Homo sapiens: one gene and its partner. The protein of the gene in region 2 interacts with the protein of the main gene of each other region in a pairwise test. Each region holds a gene or a part of one and is shown on either strand. Other genes may lie near its edges.

The links. The genes of interacting proteins can lie anywhere in the genome.
Region 1: the proteins of REEP3 (region 2) and C3orf52 interact in binary tests that used the Homo sapiens proteins (3 or more experiments, as listed by UniProt).

Annotation. Positions count from the first base shown.
Region 1 is NC_000003.12:112,089,387-112,096,414, forward strand, and holds part of C3orf52 (TPA-induced transmembrane protein), read left to right. Parts: intron 1-3,973; coding exon 3,974-4,103; intron 4,104-7,028. UniProt on the Homo sapiens protein: Has a role in LIPH-mediated synthesis of 2-acyl lysophosphatidic acid (LPA). LPA is a bioactive lipid mediator involved in different biological processes, and necessary to promote hair formation and growth.
Region 2 is NC_000010.11:63,517,565-63,524,427, forward strand, and holds the start of REEP3 (receptor expression-enhancing protein 3), read left to right. Parts: upstream 1-3,836; 5' UTR 3,837-3,981; coding exon 3,982-4,013; intron 4,014-4,173; exon of another isoform or gene 4,174-4,326; intron 4,327-6,863. UniProt on the Homo sapiens protein: Microtubule-binding protein required to ensure proper cell division and nuclear envelope reassembly by sequestering the endoplasmic reticulum away from chromosomes during mitosis.

The DNA.
Region 1 (7,028 bases), on a different chromosome or scaffold from region 2:
GTGTGGTGGCGCATGCCTGTAATCCTAGCTACTCAGGAAGGCTGAGGCAGGAGACTCGCTTGAACCTGGGAGGCGGAGGTCGTGGTGAGCCCAGATCACGCCACTGCACTCCAGCCTGGGCAACAAGAGTGAAACTTCGTCTCAAAAAAAAAAAAAAAAAAAAAGATTTATTTCAATGAGCTAGCTAAAAATTAGCTCCATTGCCACGTGTTGTTCAGTTTAGGACAAGAATCAACTGGCTCTTTTGTGCTTGGATCAAACAAGTGGATTAAATCCCACAATGAGTATTATGAAGAGTTTCCTACCTGTAAGAAAATTTTCCCTGATCTATATAATATCTGCTTCTGATTGAGTCAAAAAGAAGAAAGGCTTTTTAGATGTAAGAGATAGGTATCCTGCCACTGTTGCAGGATCCTGTGTCATGTATTTAGACCTTTATCTAAAGACGGATGTAAATATCCGGGGAATGTTCATAGGAAAGCCCTGAAAATTCTTGAGCCATATAATATGATCACAGAATATAAGATGCAGATTGCAAATGTAAATTATTAAGCCATGTAAAACAATAATAGAATGTAAGATGCAGTTGCAAATATCTCCGGAAGGCACCTTGCAGAAGAATCTATGTGTGGCCTCTCCTCACGATCTAGAATTTGGGCAAGAGAGATGAAGCCAGTGAAGAAGGCAGTGTGTCTTCATGATCCAGTTTTGAGGCAAGACTCAGATGGCACAGGTAGCACACACCTACTGTGTCACAGGCTCTTCACCCTCAGGGCACATTGGAATCTCCGGGCGTTACTTCTAAAAGATACTAATTCCTCAGCTGATTCTAATGGGCAGACAGCTGAGAAGCACTGTACAGTCTATTGTTTGGCTGGGAGTGTCTGACAGTTTCATGTGCTTTTTTTTTTTTTTTTTTTTTCATTTGAGAGAGTCTCACTCCTGCCACCCAGGCTGGAGTGCAGTAGTATGCTCATAGCTCACTGCAGCCTTGACCTCTTGGGCTCAAGCGATCCTCCCACCTCAGACTCCTCAGTATCTGGGACCACAGGTGTAAACCGTCATGTCTGGCTATTTTTTTATTTTTATTTTTTGTTGTGACAGACCATTTTATAATGACATAAAGTCTGTGAATATTAATCATGTAAGGGATAGCGCTCAGCGGTCTTCCTCTTAGAGCTGAGGACAGGTCAGTGAGGGCACTAGGCTACAGGAAGAGGCATTTCCTATAGATGACGGCTGTAAAATTTTAAGCTGAGTTCCTCCAGGAAGTCATAGAGTAATTAGTGGTTTTTTTCAACACACCAGAGTCCTAATTTGTGATCTCTAAGGGACAGCATAAATAAAGGCATGAGAGGCCAAGGAGGTGCATTGACACTCATTCTATGGCTCATTTGAAACTAGATATTTCCTTTTGTGCTAATCTTTATGGGTCCCAGCTGCCTTTTATGAGGGCTGAAAATAGCACCAGGGCTTTGGCCTCAGGAGCTCTGTAAATGGGGAGATGTTTCTGTCCCCTGAGAAACTGAAGATTCTTTGTACTGGGATGTCTTTTTCCCGTGTGGCTTCCCCTGGCTTTGAAGCAGTTCTGCAGGTTTTGAGTGGGGATGAGAGGTGACCCTATCCCTGGATTCCAGAAATGCACTTAACTCAAGAGGGATTTCCTCTGTCAAGATATCCCTAGGGCCTTTAAGTGCTCCCCTCGCACCTCTGACAGGCTAGGCCTCAGAGTCAGTGTAAAGTGCACTTGGGAAATCCAACATTTGTCCCCTCATCTAGATTTTCTCAAAGTCCATTCTTAAAATTTCTGGGAGGCCTCTACAACTAAACAGCCCACAATCGTTAAATGTATATTACTTGTAGAAGGCACAGGTGTGGAATATAAGAACAGGGCAGTTTAAGAGCACCCCTCCTCTATGTGGTTTCAGTTTACGCAGGAAGATAAGGCCAGGCTCTGTTTGTTTTTGAACCTGAAACCGGACAGGGCAGTCAGTGGCAACAGCAGATGGGCTATGTGGACAGCTCAGGTATTGGAAGATCTCACTAAGGGCAGGTGGGGAGGGAGGCTTCCACCAAAGGGGAGATTTGACCTAACTCCCGAAAGGTGGGAGGCCTCAGACCAGAGGTCTGCCATGGCCTCCTCCCACCTCCCTTACAATCTGGTCCACTAGGTGCAGGTGGGGCCTAGGTATGTGTCAGTTAAAATCCTTACCCAGTGATTCTGATGTGCAGCCAGGCTTGGGCACCTCTAATTGAGAAGGTTGGAAATACAGTCCAAGTGTGGACTGACCGATTCGTTTTCTGATGGCCAGCACCAAAATAAGAATGGCAGAGAAGGCCAGTCGCGGTGGCTCATGCCTGTAATCCCAGCACTTTGGGAGGTTGAGGCGGGAGGATCACGAGGTCAGGAGATCGAGACCATCCTGGCTAACACAGTGAAACCCCGTCTCTACTAAATATACAAAAAATTAGCCGGGCGTGGTGGCGGGCGCCTGTAGTCCCAGCTACTCGGGAGGCTGAGGCAGGAGAATGGCGTGAACCCGGGAGGCGGAGCTTGCAGTGAGCGGAGATCGTGCTGCTGCACTCCAGCCTGGGCGACAGAGCGAGACTCCATCTCAAGAAAAAAAGAAAAAAAAAAAAAAGAATGGGAGAGAAAGCAGGCCAGGTGGCCAGGTGTCGGTCAGGAGCGAGTCTCCTCGAGTGCCGGCTGCTGCTTTGTGGGATGGTGAACGCTGAGGAATGACTGAGGCGCAGTTGCACCCTTTGGCCGAACTCCCAATAATTGTTTAGCAGATGCTTTGTGTCCATTATCTCTAGTTTTTGCAACAGTCCTGTGAGCTAATTTACTATTTATATATTTTAAAGCTGAGGACTTTGGGGCCTATGAGTTTCAGTAGCTTGCTTAAAGCCACCTTGCCTTTAAGTGGTATATCTTGGTTTGGAATCCAAGTGTGTTAGATACAGACACATTTTTTCCCCATTGTATTCTGTTGTTTCCCATGGTCTCCATGAAAGAATTATCTAATGGTGGAGTGGGAAGTAGGAGAAGAGTCATGGGACCATATAGGGTAAGGTGGGGGCCCCTCTGTGACACCCTCATAAACCGGAGCTCTGCACAGTGATGTGGACAAAAGGGAAAGTTGGAGAGCTTTGTGGAGACACACAGCAGGGATTGGTTCTGGCTCATCTCTCTGAATTGCGTCTTTGAAATGGACTAGTGCACACCCTGAAGGGCTGTTAGGGTTAAGTGAAATGACGCTGGTGCTCAATAAACCATAGCAGTTGTACTTGTTTTCATTGACCCCTCCTCTGCCTCACTCCAGCCTTCTCACTCCAGCTTTGCAGCTTATTTCCTGTTGTCTCTTGCAGCTGTCCTTTCATTTCCCTTCCCAACCCTTTTTTACATAGAACCTAGGCCACAGCAGTAGCCTTGTAGCTTTTTCTTGGTGTTTCCACTCTAAACCACACATGATTTTCCCTTAATTTTCAACTCGGCTCTGGTGTTTCAAAACCTTCAAGTTTCCAGTGCACACCCAATTAAGTCCAATCTATTCTGGGACAGCTATCAACACCCTCTGAGTGTGCTCCCAGCCTTTCACTCTCTCTAATCTTAACTTTCATTATTTGCCTCTGAAACCCACATTCCAGTCGGCAGGCTAGTCTGCTGGCCGGTTCCATTACGAATCCACACTTTGGATGCTCTTTCCTGGGTTTGGAATGCCTTCAAAAATCCATCTTTCAAAATCCTGCCTATCCTCCCCACTTCAGAGCCCCCAGAGGATTTTCTTGCTAACTTCTTGATGAGGTTCTGTTCTGCCTCTGATCTCTCTTTTTGAAAACTTGATTCAGTAGAGTGTTGCCCTAAGGTCAGGGTCTTGCTGCCTTCATTTCTGTGTCTCTGGCACATCCTAGGTATTCAGAACTGTCTGTTGCAACACAATGACTGCCTCACAATCTCCCTCTGCCTTTCTAGGCTAACAAGGAAAGCCCCTGGAGCTCCTGTAATAAGAATGTGGTTGGAAGATGCAAACTGTGGATGATCATCACCTCCATTTTCCTAGGTGTCATTACAGTGATCATCATAGGCTTATGTCTTGCTGCAGGTAAGAGGATTTAGATGTGAATAAATAACACATTTTAAGAACTTACTTAAGGCTTGTGACTTACACTGAAATGGAAGATGTACTCATAGCCATTTCATTATTTATAATGTGAATTTAAGACCGGCTTGGAATATATTGTATGGGTGGGAGATATGCCTGATTCTTGTGTTTTTGTTTTCTGTTGTTGTTGTATTTTGTTGTTTTATAAGCTCCAGAAGAAATATAGAAACCAGTGTTTTACTTTAAACTCTGCTCATTGGATCTTGAAGAGGTTTCTTAATGTTTCAACTTACTTAAACACTGATTTATATTTTATTTATATCCTGATACCTGTTGATTTGAATTCTTTTTCTTTTCATTTGTTTGCTAAAAATAATTATACTTCATCTGGTGTGTCTGATATATTACTATGATGATAAAATAATAAATAATGTATTTGAAAGAGTTTTAAAAAACTTTGAAGAACCATGTGTCCATAAGCTGTCATTATTTTAACTTATTGTATTTATTTATTTTTTTTTTTGAGAGAAAGTCTTACTCTGTCACCCAGGCTAGAGTGCAGTGGCACGACTTTGGCTCGCTGCAACCTCTGCCTCCCAAGTTCAAGGAATTCTCATGCCTCAGCCTCCGAAATAGCTGGAATTATAGGCATGTGCCACCACGCCCAGCTAATTTTTGTATTTTTAGTAGAGACGGGGTTTTGCCATGTTGTCCGGGTTGGTCTTGAACTCCTGACCTCAAGTGATCTGCCTGCCTTGGCCTCCCAAATTGCTGGGATTAGAGGCATGAGCCACCATGCTTGGCCCAATTTTAACTTGTTTTAGAAATGACTGTTTATTTTATTAGTGTTGTATGTGTGTATAAAACAAAAAATGTATAGAATGCTAACTATATATGACTACATCTATTCCATATATTATTTCATGTTGTTGCTTATTTTGATTGAAAAATGATATATGTTCAGTTACCCATAAAACCCATCTGTAATATTAATATTTGGTCATATTTTCTTCTAGTCTTTTGTTTAGTTGCATTTCTAAAATAATTTGAGATTAGATTTCTTTATAGTCTTGTGGACTACCTTTAGGATTTTGATATTATGTTTAGATCATTTTGCCAAGTCATTAAAAATTATTTGTGAACATTATTATTTTTATGATTTGCATGATACAGTCTTCCACATCATTTAAAGTTCTTTAGGTAGTTACCAATTTTTTAATGATTATTAGTATTCGTTAAAGTTTTTACATCCTCCAGTGGACAATCATTTCAATTCAAAATGGGAAAGAAGAAAATTGTTTTTATTTATATGTGGGGGTGATGGTAGAGAGGGGCTCGACTGAGGCTGGGATACTCCCGAGCATGATCCAGCCTTCATGCGGCATGGGTTGAGTCCAGCTCCCAGTTACAAACCCAGTCATAGAATGAGAAGAAGAAGGGGTAACTCCCCAGTCTCTCCAGAGGGAGTTCTCAGGAATTTTCCTCAGAAACTACATTTTCCATTTACCGCTTGTTTCCCCTTCTCCCAACCCCTTAATTTCCTGTCTTAGAGTTTTGTAATTCCTGAAGGAATAGGAAAACTTTGATGACATCAGCCAACCTCCAGCACATAAGTTTCCTGGCCAGGCACCATATCTACGTATTTACTTAGGGCATTGTTCAGGTGTGTTGGATGACTGTTTGAGGATATAAGCTGGTGTTAAGGTAGGAAAAAGCTAATGAAGTGTGCTGCACCTCCTCCGTCATGCTGAGGACAATAGTTTTGGTGTGAGCATTGCCATACTTCCTATTCATATCAATTCCAACACATGGATGTTGAAAATGAGGTTGAGTAGCACAATCTTGTCCTGACATAACTAGTTGGTGCTATCCTAGAAGTTGATATTTGGATCCTGTTGGCATCTGGGGCCTATCATAAAGGATGATTCAAGAGATCTAGATGGTTTAATATTCAGGATTCTAAAGCGCAAGACCCAGGATCTGTCTTCCATTCTCAAAAAGTCATCTAACCTCTTCACCTCACAAAGAGCAGTCTGCAAGAGGAAGGTATTTCACTTCCTTCCACAGTTTTTCTGGAGATGTAAAAGGTTATGGGATAATATTCAGGGAAGAATTTTTTTAACACTTGTAGTGCAAACTTTATTTTTAATTTAACTGTAAATTTGTGTTCGAACATGTCAATGCTGTAAGAGAGATTTTTTCAAACTACTTTTTAAATCAAGGAAATACTTGTATTTTACTTGGCATCTCAGCTCTTAGGTATTTGATCCTGTGGGGAGAGTCATGTTAGACGTGGGGGTGGGGGGAGATACAGTAGGTTAAAAGGGGTGGGGCAGGGGCTCCCTTCTGTGACAGTCCCAGCCTCACCTAGAGCAGTTCCGTAGGCATTTTTTGGGGATGATCTTCAATAATCAGCCACTTCCTAATTGCCAAGCCCATTAATATGAATCAGATATTTGTGGAACTTTCAAGTACTGCATGGGAAATGTTGTCTGGGGATAAAAACACTGTTGGGAGAGTCAAGGGCTGTGCCTGTGGCTGTCTGGATTTACTGGGTGACTAAGGTTCCTCAGGAACTATATTTGCCATTCATTGCCTGCTTACCCTTCTCTAGACCCCTTAATCTCCTGTCTCAAGGCTCTGTAGTCTTCAGACTGAAGCTTGGAGGCGGAAGTGTTAACTTTTGTTCTTCAGTAGGCAGGTCTTTGCAAAACTACCCAGAAAGGCTGAGGAAGCTGAGAGGCTAAAGAAAAACTGACAAATCCAGTTACTCAGAAAGAAACATTTAACAGGGTTTTAGGAACAGAAGCCATGCGTTGGGCAGCAGTGAGAGGAGATGGTGCATTCCTGCACCATTACCCCAAAGGCCCAGGGCTTAAATACCACAGAAAAAGGGTATGCATGCTTCAGAAGGGATGTGTTTTA
Region 2 (6,863 bases):
ATGCGCTTTATATAGCACAATGTATGAATATTAGTGATATATGTATAAAATCAAAATTAAGTTCAGTACTTAAAGAAATCATATCTTCTATATAAGAAATGATTTCAAGCACTCCAAGAGACCACACTATAAAAGCTTCTAGGCAGAAGGTACTATATTTCCTTTTCTCCCAGTGCCCCTAGCACCTTATCTTATACAGTGAAGTACTTATCTAATGGCCACTTTTTTTTTTTTTTTTTTTTTTTTGAGACAGAGTCTCACTCTGTCACCCAAGCTGGAGTGCAGTGGTGCAATCTCAGCTCAGTGCAACCTCCGCCTCCCAGGTTCAGGTGATTCTCCTGCCTCAGCCTGCCAAGTAGCTGGGATTACAGGTGTGCACCATCATGCCCAGCTAATTTTTGTATTTTTAGTAGAGATGAGGTCTTGCCACATTGGCCAGGATGGCCTCGAACTCTTGGCCTCAAGTGATCTGCCCTTGTCGGCCTCCCAAAGTGCTGGGATTACAGGCATGAGCCACCGCACCCAGCATAATGGCCACTTATTTCTTAGCAAATCTCAACTATCTGCTAATAAATTTGGCAGATTTCTGTGTATCTGAGACACAGTCCAATACACAGAAATTATAAACACCCTCCACTAAAATCTGGGCACTTTTCATGAGAGACTCTTCTCAGATGAAGTTACTCTTACTTTAGATCAACAGTTCTCAACCACATCAGATTCAATGTGCCCCTTGCATAAAATATTTTCCAACTTCTGCTTTACCACCCTGAAACAAAATAACAATATTCCTACAATTTCAAACAAATCCATATACCCTAAATAAGAGTGGAAAAGAGACATGAAAATGATTTATAATAACATATATTTCGACGTGGGGCAAAACTACACTAGAAGACTTAAAGAAGTAACTAGTAGCTGAATATATCTATGAATGCAGAGCTGTTTGTGATACAATTTTCCAAAACTGTAAACAATTCTTGGTCAAGTTGTGAACAAAACAATCTTCCTTCAATTCACATAACCGTTGCATGTGGAAACAGACTCAGTTAAAATTCAGTCTCAGTTAAAATCATGATGCAAGATGGAGGTTCCAGGCTTTGATAATTACAAATACTACATGAAAGTCAGGCAGATATTCTTAAATCATGCAAGACATGGGGACACTTTGTTCAGGACTGTCCCACACCTCTCTAGCCTTCACTCAACAAATGCAAGTTGTTAGCTCCAATCATTACAACAATCTAAAAAATGCCTTCCAGTTTCCCCTTGGAGGGCAACACCAAGCTGGACCCACCGCCTTAAACACAGTTCCGCTATCTATCCCAGTATAATGTAAACAAGCTTGGGAAGCATGAATTAGATCTCCAGTTCTGTTACCAATGACCTATGTGATCACCCGCCAGTTGAGTTAACTTCTCTAAACCTCACTTTCCATGGTACCAAAAGGGAATAAACGCTATATGGCTTTTTAAGTTGTCAGAATGACTCAATGACACGTGTATAGCACATAGTAGGTGGTTTCCAACCCATGGCCTATTGAGATGTGAAAAAAGGCACTGTTCCAGGTAAATAGAAAGAAAGCAGCAAAAAGTAATCTAAATGTGGAAGAGGCAGAAGATATAATAAGCATACAAAATGAAACTTAACGCACAGCAGTCTAGGGACATTTCAGAGAGCAGCCAGCCATCCTACCTAGGTTGCCTTCAGCAACCCCTGAAGGCATTAATGTACTAGGATTAGCTGAAATAATTAATATTCACAATGATGACCTCCAAAGTAAAAAGGCAAGAAAGACATTTTTAAGAGACTTCCAATGTACGTGGCTGAAATTTTTTAAATCTGATGCCTAAAGAGTGACTGTATTTCACAAACATTATTCAAATTTTTATTGGACGTTTACCCTATCTGAGGCTAGATAGTTGGAAAACACAAAGAAATCTAATACACCATGTCTGTTCTCAAACATTTTACCATTCAGTACATTAGACATGGTAGAGGCAGAATGACACAGATAAGAAATAGAAATTCAAGTAATAAATTATGAGAGCACAGACAAAATTAGGAATAATTGTCCCTGAGGAAAACCAAGGATGTCTTCATGGCACAGGCCACTGAAAAATGAGAGTTCTGATAGGTACAGAATGGGGAGCAAAGTGTTAAGGGAAAAACGAAATCTGGGCAAAAGCACTGAGCATGAAAATACAGGTTGGCTGAAAGAAGAGAGGTAGGGAACGGGTACATTAGGAGTTGGGGGTGAAAGTAGTAAAAGTAAAGGCTGTAAAGCTATTTCAGGACCTTTCATGAAGGGATCTGAATGATATTCAAATTCATTTGAGTTTTATTGAACAAGAGAGTTCGCCAAAAAACTGGTGCTTATGCAGCACACCTGATCCTCAAATAATGCTGAATAATGGCCAAAAATAAAAGATTCAGAGTTAAATGCAAATTATTACTCAAATTCCTGAAATAAAAAGTCTTGACATGAATTAATAAGCGAAAAGAACCTAACCCAAGAGTAGAAAGTAGCTTCTGAGCTTGTTTCTTAAATAATGAAATATTACCCAATTTATTGACTGAGAACTGAAAATAATTTAGGATAATCTGTTGTGTCCTTTGATTGTCTTCCATGCAAGTCAGAGTATTTCCTAAACATATTATTTAGCAGTGCCTCATATCACCCTTGAAAGGCAAGAGACAGACTACAGTATTATTACCCCCTTTTTATCACAGGGAAACTGAGGAACAAGAAGACAAAATTACAGTATGGTCACAAAAGCCATCATATTTTCTAGGACTTTAATTAAAGGCTCCAAGCCTACATTTCATCTTTTATTCTTCGCACCATCTGAATACTAGAATTATCTTTTACTATCGTCTTAACTGGAAAAAATAAAAATATCTAAACTTTAACATCATTTTCTCAATTTGGTACTGTCACAAAAAAAAAAAAAAAACAGTTTTAAAAGTCTGCCCTTGAAATGATATTTGCAAGAACAGCAAGGTGTAAGCAGTAACCCAACCTCCAAAAAATACAGTTGTAAATCTTACAGCTGTAATATAGTTGTAAATCTTAAGACAGGTCAGGAATCCTAGACCCAGCCTTTACTTTGAACATCTGGCAGGCCTCAGGGAAATAATGGAGATTCGTGTCTGTAAACAGTCTTTGCAGATGCTCTGATGAAAAGGTGCCCTAAGAGGCCCAGAACAGTGGTATCACTGCACCCACTACTGCAAACATGAAATCCTCCTCTGTCCCTCCCTGCATTGCACCACGAGACTCGTGGCACACACGGAGGCCTGTGCAAGAACCTCTCGACGATTCCTTTAAAATGTGGTAATATAAGGACGCCTTTGGTGCTGGGCCTCCGTAAACACTGAGGATACCGGATGTGGCCAGGCACACCTCAAAGTCTTGGCTCTCCAAAACCAGGGCCTGGTCGAGAGTTTTATTGGACACCGAGTTCCTGCGAATATCTCACTTTTCACACAGGCACTGCCAATCCCTACCCTCCAGTACCCTTCCTCAGCCTCCTGCCCCACTCTCGCCGCGAGTGTGGGCGTCCCAAAGAGCTAAGGAGGGTAAGGTTGGTTAGAGCGCAGGGGCCAAGGCCGCGGCAGCGAGGCCGTCCAGCGCGGGCTAGGATCCCGCCAGCCCAGCCCTGGAGCCCGGCCGCCTGGCCCCAGCCCTGGCCCGGGCCAACGCGCCGCCGCCACCGCCTATCAGCGGAGCGCAGGGGCGGGGTGCTGTCCGGACTAGGCTGCCGGGCCGGCGGGCGGGGGCGGGCGGGGACGGGCGGGGGACCGACCTCTGCGCAGCCCAGGCCGCCGCGCGCACACACCGGGCCCGGCTCCTGAGGGCGCCAGCGCGGCCCCGGGGAGCGCGAGGAGCCGGCGAAGCGCGCGGCCTGCCGTTGGCGGCCTGGTCCGCAGCGCCCTGCGCCCACCCGCCCCGGACGTGGGGCCCAAGCCCCCGTGAAGATGGTGTCCTGGATGATCTCCAGAGCCGTGGTGTAAGTGCCTCTCACTGCGCCCTGCAGCCGGCGCGAGGCCCAGGGGAGCTGTGGGAAGGGGAAGGAGCCGAGAGGAAAGGGAAGGCCTGGGCCTGGGCGGGGACGGGGTAGCCCGGCCTCGGGCCTGCCGAGGGTCTGGGGGAGCCCTCGGCTTCCTCACCTTGGTCCACGTCGCTGCGGAGCTCCCTGCGACGGCCGAGGGCCTAGCTGCGGCGACTGCGGCTGCGACGGCGGCGGCGGCTGTGGCGCTGCTCGGCTGCGTGCGGTGCGGCGCGGCGCCCCTGCTCCGGCGGCGCTGGGTGGGCAGGCGCTCAGGGCAGGCGGCGCGCGCTCCCCGCTCCTGCTCCCCGCGCAGCGCGGCACCGCCCTGCGGGCCCGGGAGCGGCGCGCCTCGCAGCTGCTCCCTGCGCAGGCTCCGCAGACGCCGAGCGCGGGAGGCTCCGCGATCCTCCCGAGGATGCGACGGCAGTGCCGAGCCTTTGTATCCCGCGGCTGATGCGTTGCGGTGTCTCTCTTGGCGGCTGATTGCCATTCGGTCACGTGTGGTAGGAGGAGAGATTTGTCTAAAAACCGGAGACCGCTCCCAGCCCAGGATCCCTGGGAAGGGTCCTAGTTTTCCCAAGATTTGCAGCTTACCGAGAAAGGTGACACCGGCTGCTCGCCCAGATCCCCGAATTCGGCCCTGTCTCGGCGGAAATATTTGCTAAGTGATTGAAAGGCTGCAGGTGCCTGTTGCCTTTGTTCAAATTATGGGTTCATTTCATTGTTCTCCTACCAACAAGTGCTACAGGTCTGTAAGAAAAAGAAATTCCTTGAGTTGGTGGTGTTAATCGTGTAAATGTATTTGAATACAGTTTAAACTGATTTTCTCTCATCTCCATTTTACCCCTCTCCCCGATTAAAAAAAAAGTCACCAAGTAAACAATGACGTAGTTACAGCTAGGGCCTATGAATTCATTATTCACCTCTGTAGTAGTGTTATCTCAGAAGGTTTCATAAAGGTATATGAAAAAATGTTTATGTGAGGGGGCAGGCTTCTCTGATAAGCTTTAGAATTTAGGAAAAATAACATTACCAGACTTTTTGTTAAAAGGAGCTAGATTTTCTGAGTTTGGGGTTTATTTTGTTTGGAAGTGAATTACTAGCCCTATTTAATCAGATTTGCAGCACAGCATTCAAAATTTTTCATTTGATTAAATCGCAAAGTTTCTAGTTTTAAAGCCTCAGAGCTTCCTGTGTTCCCCTGTACGAAACTAAAAATCAAGATATAAACAAAAGGATACCACAGATGCCTTCAGATTGTTTTTCAGCCTTTTCCTGGCCTCTCTTTTGAGTCTGTCATTTATCTAATTCAGGCATACCTTTCTTGACCTAGTAGATGTCTATCAACTGTTGTGTCCACACCTAGAAAATCAAGTGCCCTATTAAGAAGCTGTACTTTACAAAAAAAAAAAAAAAAGCCTCTGGATTTCTTTGACCAGTTCTTCAGCTGACAGAAAATTGTGAAGCACTTTTAGACTTTTGTTTTTCATAATTGCCAATGAATATGAATGTCTGTTCTAGGTGCTACCTATAACACAAAGGTCAGTAACACGTAGTTGATCATGGGAATTGACAGTTTGGGTGCACAGATATCTGCAGTACAGGTCCAAATGTCAACTCTTGTAAAAGTTACACCCACTCTAATACCCAGTGTTGGACAAGGAAGGGATATCTGGTTGGAGAATCAGAAAAGGCAAGGGAGATTACGTTTCAGATGGGCCTTAAAGAATAGGCCCAGTAGAGTGGCTCACACCTGTAATCCTAGCACTTTGGGAGGCCAAGGAGGGAAGATTGTTTGATCACAAGAGTTAGAGACCAGCCTGGGCAACATAGCGAGACCTTGTCTCCACAAAAAAAGAAAAATTTAATTAGCTAGTCACAGTAGCTCACACCTGTAATCCCAGCTACTCAGGGACTGAGGTAGGAGGATCGCTCAAATTCAGGAGGTCAAGGCTGCAGTGAGCCGTGATCGTGCCACTGCACTCCAGCCTGGGCCACAGAGTGAGACTGTGCCTCAGAAAAAAAACAAAAAAGAATGGACAGAATCTAGGCAGCCAAAGATGAAAAAGGAAAGGATTCCAGATATAGGGACCGGCGTGAGCCAAAGCCCAGAGGAGGAAAAGCCCAGATTAGTTACAGTGGGCGTGAGGGACTCGGGTGGGGAAAAAGCAAGCTGGAAAGGTAGCCTGGGGCCTGTTTTCAAGAAAGAAGGGGTAAATGTTATAAGGCAGCAACAGCTTTGCTTTGGAAGATTCTCTGCCCTTCTGTGAAATGATTGGCAATGGAGACCTGGAAGACAAGGAGACTCCTTAGGAGGCTCCCTAACTGGAGAGAGGGGATTAAAGCCTCTCTCCAGTTAAAGTACTTGAGCTACAGAATGTAAGGTTTGAGGCTAACGACAGGGAGCAATAATGTGAGGAAGAAAATGTCATGAAAAGAAATGTATTTCTCAAGTGTCAGGAACTGTTATTTTGTGAGCCGTGAACACATTAGCACATTAGAAAGCACACTTGTAGAGAATATAAACATCATTCTATTTTTCCTCTTTACTCAGTTTCTCTCTCTAAACATGAAAGAGCAATCACAGGATCTACACAAACTTGGAAACCTTTTTCACACCAGGAGGTAGAATTTACTTGATTCTTTCTAACCCACTGAGACAACCACCTCCTCCTGAGCAAGATCAGACCCTTCTCTCAACATGAACCTCTGGTAGCATGGGCAGGGAACCTCCATAACCAAAGCACCCTGTATGTAGAAGCACTTTGTCCCAAGATCCTGCACTTTAACACCAGAGAAATTAGCCCT